2 separate regions of the Homo sapiens genome follow, and region 2 is linked to region 1. Evidence: fine-mapped expression QTL. Tissue or cell type: gastroesophageal junction. Region 1 holds a variant in brackets; the other region holds the start of a gene. All regions are shown on one strand. Distances are from middle to middle.

The links. PIP is the estimated chance that this variant, and not a neighbour inherited with it, causes the effect.
Region 2: SELENOP starts here. The variant in region 1 is the best candidate, but not a certain one, in a credible set for the expression of SELENOP in gastroesophageal junction (GTEx, PIP 0.65).

The regions. Positions count from the first base shown.
Region 1 is chr5:42,240,695-42,245,050 of GRCh38, reverse strand. No RefSeq gene overlaps it. Among named protein-coding and RNA genes, the nearest start is that of LINC02996, 68 kb to the right of the region's middle. The variant A/G (reference allele first, on the strand shown) is at 2,421.
Region 2 is chr5:42,810,317-42,814,316 of GRCh38, reverse strand. It overlaps SELENOP (selenoprotein P), which reads left to right and starts at 2,425. Exons shown (of 5, transcript NM_005410.4): 1 at 2,425-2,481. RefSeq lists an enhancer at 1,701-2,266.

The DNA.
Region 1 (4,356 bases):
TTTTCATATGTTTGAAAAAATATGAAAAAAACTTTATAAGTCTACATAAATGTATTTAAGTTAAATAAGTATTAATGTTAATTTCTTTTGTTTTAACTTTTACTATTATGTAGTATATCATTAAATAAGATTCCAAATCCTGAATTATAATGTTTCAACCTATTTTCACTGAATTGACTTCAGTCTTTTGGATCAGATTCTTTTTCTCTTCCTGGTTATTAGAGTACTAAACATACTGTTTAAAAGAAGGGACAGGATTGGGGAGTATGATAAAGTGGAAGAAAGTCACATGTTATTCTACCACCCCAAAGAGACCATGGTTTACCTTGTTAACCACAGGGCTTTATTCCTTCTAGTCTTTTTACCATGTAGTTGACACCATACCATTGATATTTTTTTTCTTATTTTTATTTTTAATTTTTGTGGGTACTTAGTAGGTGTATATACTTATGGGGTACATGAGATGTTTTGATACAGACATGCAATGTGAAATAAGCACATCATGTAAATTTTTCTTATTCTTTAACTTACTATTATATCAAAAGCATTTGTACATGTTCTTGAAACCAAGAAAAAGTTCATTTTCTAAACTTGTCTTACTGGTAGTTTTAATCATGCTTGTCTCCATTTAACTCCAGACAGGCAGTAGGAACAGGGTGAAGTTCCTGGGAAGGAGAACAGCCCCTGGGGGTGTAACAGTGACAGGAACAAGGGAAAATATGAAGTTCTGGCCTTGGTACAATGAAAGACTCTTCAGTGCGTGATGGACTTGGGGGAATTCTGTCTTGGATAACAAATAGAGCAGACATGTCCATCTAGATTGGGGCTTCTCCTAACAAAATTAAAAGGAGCAGAAAGGCACAATTACCTGTGTATAGGGAAAGTTATCTACTTACAGTCATGCTTTCCTATGAGATATCAAAACCAATGTTGCATTTCAAAGCAACTGGTTCTGACCAGCAGAAGCTGATTAATGGCTGTGAATGTTGGGCTACTACAGCACACCAGATTTTCACTGGAACAAACAGAAGACCCTTTCCTGACCAGTAAACAATGGGATTTATTTTAACCAATTATGAACAGAGGTAGGGACTCATTATTCTGTCCAAAGTACTGGTTTCAATTAATGTCGTGATGTGTAAGCGCCATGAATGCCTGTCCATATGCTAGCACTTAAAAAACACTGACATTTTCCTCTTAGAGAACTATTGAGTGAATTTCTTCACAATGCCTGTTCCCAGGCAAATAAATAAATTCTACTATTGTTTTGGTTTGCTGATTTTTTTTCCTTTGTTGCTGTTGTTTCATTCTTGTACCTACAAATCTATGGGTTGAATAAAATACATGTAACGCACACAATCGTAACTGTTTATATTTGCCTTTTGGATTTAAACCCACTATGTATGTTTCAAAATGTCCCATAAATAGATTTGTAACCCAGTCAGTTATTCCATTACCCATCTCTGGGAAAGATTAGGTATTTGGTCTTAAGGGTTCTATATATTTCCCAGCAGTGCATTATAAGCCAGGGATGCCATAAGCTCTGCCTCCTTGGGTTCATAGGGGATTTATTGTCTATGTAAAGTTACATCATTATTAACATCAAGGCATTAAAAACTGATAACCCAAAGTGGGAATAGCCCTTGGCCAAACGCTGAAGTAAATAAAGTTCGCCTTCATTTCTCCTTTGCTCTGGATTCTCTGCAGGATGTCCTCCCCTGGGCCTCACACTTCCCAACAGGCAGCTTTCCAAGCTCCAAAACTTTCCGACTCTCTACTTTCATCAGCTTTCAGCTTCAGGCTTACCACCCCCCTGGGTTTGGCTCCTTTTTTTCTAAAACACTCTAATGGCTAATTTCTTAGTATACTAACAAAACTTTCAAGTGGAAGTGAGTACAGCAAAGAATGAACCTTGTTAGTGACCCTTTCAACAAGAGTTTTCTAGTGCCGTGATCTTCAAACTCAAAGCAATCACACACACAGCAATAGGCTGTTGGACTGGGAGTTAAGATGCTATTTTCAGTAGGGCCTCTTCTTGGAACTCTCACCACCAGATGACTGTTTACACCGATTGTGCAAAGCTCTTTCTTAAGGTATGATTAGAACATTTGTGTTTGTGAAATATTCTGCCAATTGGCTCCTAAGATTGTTTTGGAATTAAACTGAAGAGCTATAGCTTATAGGTCTTTTATTGAATGGGTACATGTTATTTTAATTTTTTAAATTATCATTAACCTCATCATCATCTTAGCAGTAAGTCTTTAGTATGTATCAGGTGTTCAGGGGAAACTACCCTTCTCCTTCCATGAGGGTGGGCTTCAATGATATAACACTTCCTCTATGGGAGGGGGATCGGTTTATCTGATGGTTGGAATGGAAAGATTCTGATATCTTTTGGCCACTGTTTCTTCATTAGAGGT[A/G]GAATAACGAAGTATTATGCCTGCACTTTCTCTCTCCCCATTCACAAAACTCCAAGGACTTTAAGTTTGGTGCTGGGAACTCCCTTTCCCAAAGAGCTAGGAATATGCTGCTTTAGTGTGGTTGAACCATGTTTATCAGATTTATGAGTCATTATGCTCATATTTTGATTCTTTTCCAACATCAGTTGATGCAGAACTATGAAGGATAGCAGTCAAATGGCCCCCTCAGAGACTGAAACCACCAATTAAACCCCCAGGCTGTATACTCAGAGTTTTACATGCAGTATCTCATTTTACTGTTACAACAATCTTGAGAGGTAAATAACATTACTCATTTTACAAATGATGATGAGAATTTTAGTGACATGACCAGTGGATAAGTAGGAAAGGATTGTATACCAGGTATCTCACGTTACTTGCTGTTCTTTATACATTTACCCTTCAAGTAATTTATCCTTAAACTGTATTGTCTAGTATCACTTGATTTTGAACTTCAGATAAATGGACTCATGCTTTATGTATATTCTATTTGGTTTATTTCTCTCAGGTTGCTTATGAGATTTTTTTCATGTTGCTCCATATAGATGTAGTTTGTTTATCTAGTAAATAAAATGAAGTTGCCACAATTAGTTTATTATACTTCTTATAGACATTAGAGTTGTTTACAGTTTTTTACTATTATGAATAATATCACTATGAATTTTCTTGCATTTGTCTCTTAGCACATAGATGCGTTTTGTTTTTTTATTAAATCTTGTTCCACAGCCTGGCTTACCCTTGATATTTAGTCTTCCGAGTTGAGTCATCCTGGTGAGGTGGGAAGAGTATTTTCTTGTGGTTTTATTTTGAATTTTTCTGATGTCTAAAGAGAATGAACACCTTTTCATATGATGTTTTTAGTGATTTTGCTTTTCTTTGTAATAAATCCCTTTTAAGTCCCTTTGCCATTTTTCTACTAGATTTCTACTAGGTTTCTGTGTTCTTATTGATTTGTAGGAATATTATGTGTGATAGCCTTCTGTCAAGTATATGCATCATAAATATTCTCTACCACTATCTGGTTTACCATTTCACACTCTTACTCTTATCTTTTGATGAAAAGAAGTTTTAAAATTTATTGTAATCAAATGTACTATGCTTTTCCTTTATTGTTAGTATAGCTTGTTTCTCTTTTAATACAACGTTCACACTACTTCTCACATTCAGTTATCACTTAGGATTTATTTTTATGTGGTATAAGTTAGGGTTAGATTCATTTTTCCCCATAGAGAAAACCAATTGTCTCAGTACAGTCTATAGAAAATAACATGTTTTGCTCTTTCTGCTCTGTAGTGCCTCCATTATCATATATCAAGTGGCTGTATGTTTGTAGGTCTTTGTGAGGTGGTGGTGGGGGATCTTCTGTCTCATTGGCTAATTTGTCTAATCTGGTACTAGTTCCACATTGTTTTAATTTCTGTAGCTTTGTAAGTGGTATTTAGTATCTAGTAAAATAAGTCTTTCCTCCACTGTTTTCTATTTTCCTTCTTTGAGATTATCTGAACTGGTCTTCACTCTGCATTTTCACATAAATTTAATAATCATTGTGTCTATTTCCACAAAAATAGCAGCTGAGATTTCAATTGATATTGCATTGAATCTGTAGATTAATCTGGAGGCAATTCATAGTTTTATAATAGTGGGTCTTCAAATTCAAGAGCATGGAATACCCTTCTGTTTAGTTGCCTTTAATTTCCTTCAATTATGTATTTAGGTTTCTGAGTAGAGGTTTTATTCACCCTTGGTTAGATTTATTCTTAAATTTTTTAAATTGTCTGCTAAAATTGGTGGCTGGTTTCAAAATTTCTCTTTTATTTATTGCTTGTATATGGAAATGCAATTTTTATTTTGATATCAACTTTGGATCTAGCAATTTTGCTTGTTAGTCTTGTTAATT
Region 2 (4,000 bases), 570 kb before region 1:
TCAAAATCCGAGTACCAAAAAATTCAAGCCAAGTCAAAATCAAAACCAAAGTATCCAGCAATTCAAGTCAAGTCAAAACCAGAACAAAAGTGCCAATGCAGGCACGCTGTGGGTGATCAGGCCACACTTCCACTCAGATGGAGTGGGGCAAGTTCCAAAGACTAGTCTTACCAAGTCAAGCCAAGTCAAAACCAGAACAAAAGTGCCAATGCAGGCACGCTGTGGGTGATCAGGCCACACTTCCACTCAGATGGAGTGGGGCAAGTTCCAAAGACTAGTCTTACCAAGTCAAGCCAAGTCAAAACCAGAACAAAAGTGCCAATACAGGCACGCCGTGGGTGATCAGGCCACACTTCCACTCAGATGGAGTGGGGCAAGTTCCAAAGACTAGTCTTACCAAGTTTCAGATGTCGCGACTCCAAGTGCCAGTTCTTTCCGGTGTTCAGCCACCGTGTTAATCCTCTGCAGGGGCCTGCTATGCGCTGCTCTGGCAAGGCATTCCACCGGGGCAATTTCCTACCCGGGAGCGTTCTTTGGATCGCGTCACTCAGGCTGACTGGAGTCCCCTGCAGGGACGCTCCACAGGACAGGCCTAAGCCGCCTAACGGGTTAGCTCTGCCGTCTATGTCTATCAGTTACCTCGTTTCCTGGTCAGGGAACCAAGAAATGTAGCAGGACGAGCTGCAGACAAAACCTTTCAGACACTGAGTTGTAGAAAGAAGGGCTTTATTCAGCTGGGAGCGTGGGCAAGCCACTGCCTTAAAATCCGAGCTCCCCGAGTGCACAATTTCTGTCCCTTTTAAAGGCTCACAATACTAAAGATTTCACATGTAAGGGTTGTGATTGATTGGAGCAAGCAAGGGGTACATGACAAGGGCTGCGTGCACCGGTGGTCAGAGAGAAACAGAACAGGGCAGGGAGTTTCACAGTGTTCTTCTGTACAATGTCTGGAATCTATGAATAACATCGGTTTCGAAGTTATGAATTGATTTTTAACTACTGGGTTTAGGCCAGGCAGGCCCAGGCCTGGTTTGGGCCTGGCACCGGGCTGCCTGTCTTTGATTTCACATCCTTGTTTTTTTTTTTCCTTAAAACAGGTACTGAGTATAAAACAATATGAGAGGGTCTCTCTCTTTCCTCAATATGACTACTTAAATTGGTCAAGGAAATGAACTACAGGGAGGAATATCTGCTTTGTACAAAGATTTTTTTAATGACACTCTTTAAAAAAATGATTATGTATATGTGCATTTTAACTGGATTCTCAAAGAGATATGGGACCCCAAAAGGCAAGTAACAACTGCTCAGGGCAAGTAAAGAGAACTTGGATTTCAAATGGTAACCTCCTAATTTGATAGGAAGTTTCTTGAAAGGAAGGATAACATCTGAGTCTCTTTGTAGTTCCTGCACCTTGTACAACAGTATTCAGCATACAGCAATCAGTGGGGGATTATTTGGAAAAAAATTAATTGATGAAAAAAGCAAGGCCTACTCGAAAACCATTGCTATCTAGGAATGACATCATTTGACATTGCTCCTTACCTCACCTACAGTGAGCATGCCAACTTACAAGCGTTACCAGAAAGAAAATACCCTCTTCTGAAATAGTAGGAATTAGCTATTTCATTTGTACATCTTGAAATTTCCACACTCTTTCCATGTCCAACTACTACCTTTAATTTTTATTTTTATGGTATTCACATTTGTAAAGATTTTATATTCGATCCTCAAAAAATTCTGGGGATGCATAGGTCTTCCAGGAAGTACGACTTCAGTGACAATAAAAATGAGGTCTGATTTCCCTCAGATAGGAAGTCTATTTTTCTATTTCCTTAAATTAACAAGAAAAGAGCAGTGGTCCTGTGAAATCCCATATGAATTCAAGTTATAAACATAGAACACAATCGACGTGTAAGTCTGTAACAACAGGAGACCAGAGTAACTTGTAACAGCAGGTGACTTTTCTAACAAAGGTCACACTGTGTGGGCTAAGCTAGCACCTCATCACTGCAAGAAGCAAAACAAAAGGAAAAAAAAGCTTCTCTCTCTCTTTTTTTTTTTTTTTTAAAGCAGCAGCATAATTCGCTGGCTCAGCAAATGTTTTTCCCTGTTATAGTTTGGGAAAGAAGGCAACTTGGAGGCCTTGTTTACCCTTAGCCCTTCCTCCCGCCCCCGACTGTACCATTAAATCCTAGATTCTAGGGTGACTGAAAAGGATAGGGAATAAATTAGTAATTGTCAAAATGTTTTCCCCATATTATGCATGGCAGCACTTGCTACTTTCTTTTAAGTTGATAACAATCAGCTCAGGGGTTTGCTCTGCTTGCAAGGTCACTGCAAGAATGAACATTGAACTTTGGACTATACCTGAGGGGTGAGGTAAACAACAGGACTATAAATATCAGAGTGTGCTGCTGTGGCTTTGTGGAGCTGCCAGAGTAAAGCAAAGAGAAAGGAAGCAGGCCCGTTGGAAGTGGTTGTGTAAGTAGGAACTTCGTGTTTTCTGATACTTTATTCTTTTAAAGTTTGGTAAATATTTTTTGAGTCTGATAAATTGTTTTTTTCCATAGAATAGATTCAGAAAACTGGTGGATAGAGGAAATAAAAATAATAAAAGAGAAAAAGAATAAGAAGAGTCTGAACTTAGGTGTGGTAGGTGAAGTTCCCAGTGCGCACATTTGTCAGTTCTTGATTTCTGCCCTGTCTTCTGCACAGCTGAGAGCAGAGGAAGCTGGAGAAATCCAAACCTTTTATTCTATAATCTGTTGTGATGTTACATAGGCAGTATTATATGTTCAAATTTAAATATTTTCCACTGAAGGGCAGAGTAAGAACAAACAGGGAAAAAACCCAGCCATTTGGATTTGAAGAGCAGACACTGAAATATGCTCATTCTAGTGTTGTAGAAATGTCCAGGGATATTGTGAGCAGTTTCAGAAGAAAAAGTGGTGGAATGGGGTACAGTAGGTTCAGTCCACAGTGCAGAAGTGGTCACCCTTAAAGAAGCTAAAACCCATGTCAACAATTAGGTGGTCTGTGATTAAATGCAAACTTTTGTATTTTAAATGGTGAATGAGAGCATTCAGGTGAATTAGGGGCTTTCAGATGCTGGCCTAAAGTTCAGAGGTGGAGGACAGAGAAAGTTTGTACATATCCTGCTTTTTAATGAGTAATTTTAAATAAATGTAGGTCTGAATGTGGCCATGAAATTTAAGTTTCGCAATTGAAAAGTGGTGACATAGTGAAATTTACAACTACTTTTCAATTCTTATTGGATCAGCTTCCAGGAAACCCAATTTTGTTATTTATCTTCATTATTTTTATATAGCTGTCTGACAACTATAATTATCAAAGGTTTACGGTGTAAGAAATAATTTTAAGAAAACAAAATTGAGCAGCCTGTTGATTATAATGACAGAAGAAATCCGAAAGTGTGAACTCTTAAGCTACAACTCTCTGCCAATGGGTTATTTTTTCATCATAAACCTAAATGAGGGAAATGAGTGAAACAGTCTTTTCATTTGTATTCACCATTCAGCTACTTGCAATATGTGCTCTGGGCTGGACGCGGTGGCTCACGCTTGTAATCCCAGCACTTTGGGAGGCCAAGGCAGGCGGATCACGAGGTGAGGAGTGTAAGACCAGCCTGGCCAACATGGTGAAACCCCGTCTCTACTAAAAATAAAAAAATTAGCAGGACGTGGTGGCGAGAGCCTGTAATCCCAGCTACTTGGGAGGGTGAGGTAGGAGAATTGCTTGAACCCGGGAGGCGAAGTTTGCAGTGAGCTGAGATTGCGCCATTGCACTCCAGCCTGGGTAACAGAGCAAGACTCCGTCTCAAAAAATAAATAAATAAATAAATAGATAAATAAATATGTGCTCTGTGGCAAAGTGAAAAAACCAAGTGCTGATTTTTTGCCAAGGTTCTGTAACTACTGAATTTGTGGTCTAGGAAACAGAGAAAACCTAGCCTTTCTATTAAGAAATAAAACAGCTTGAA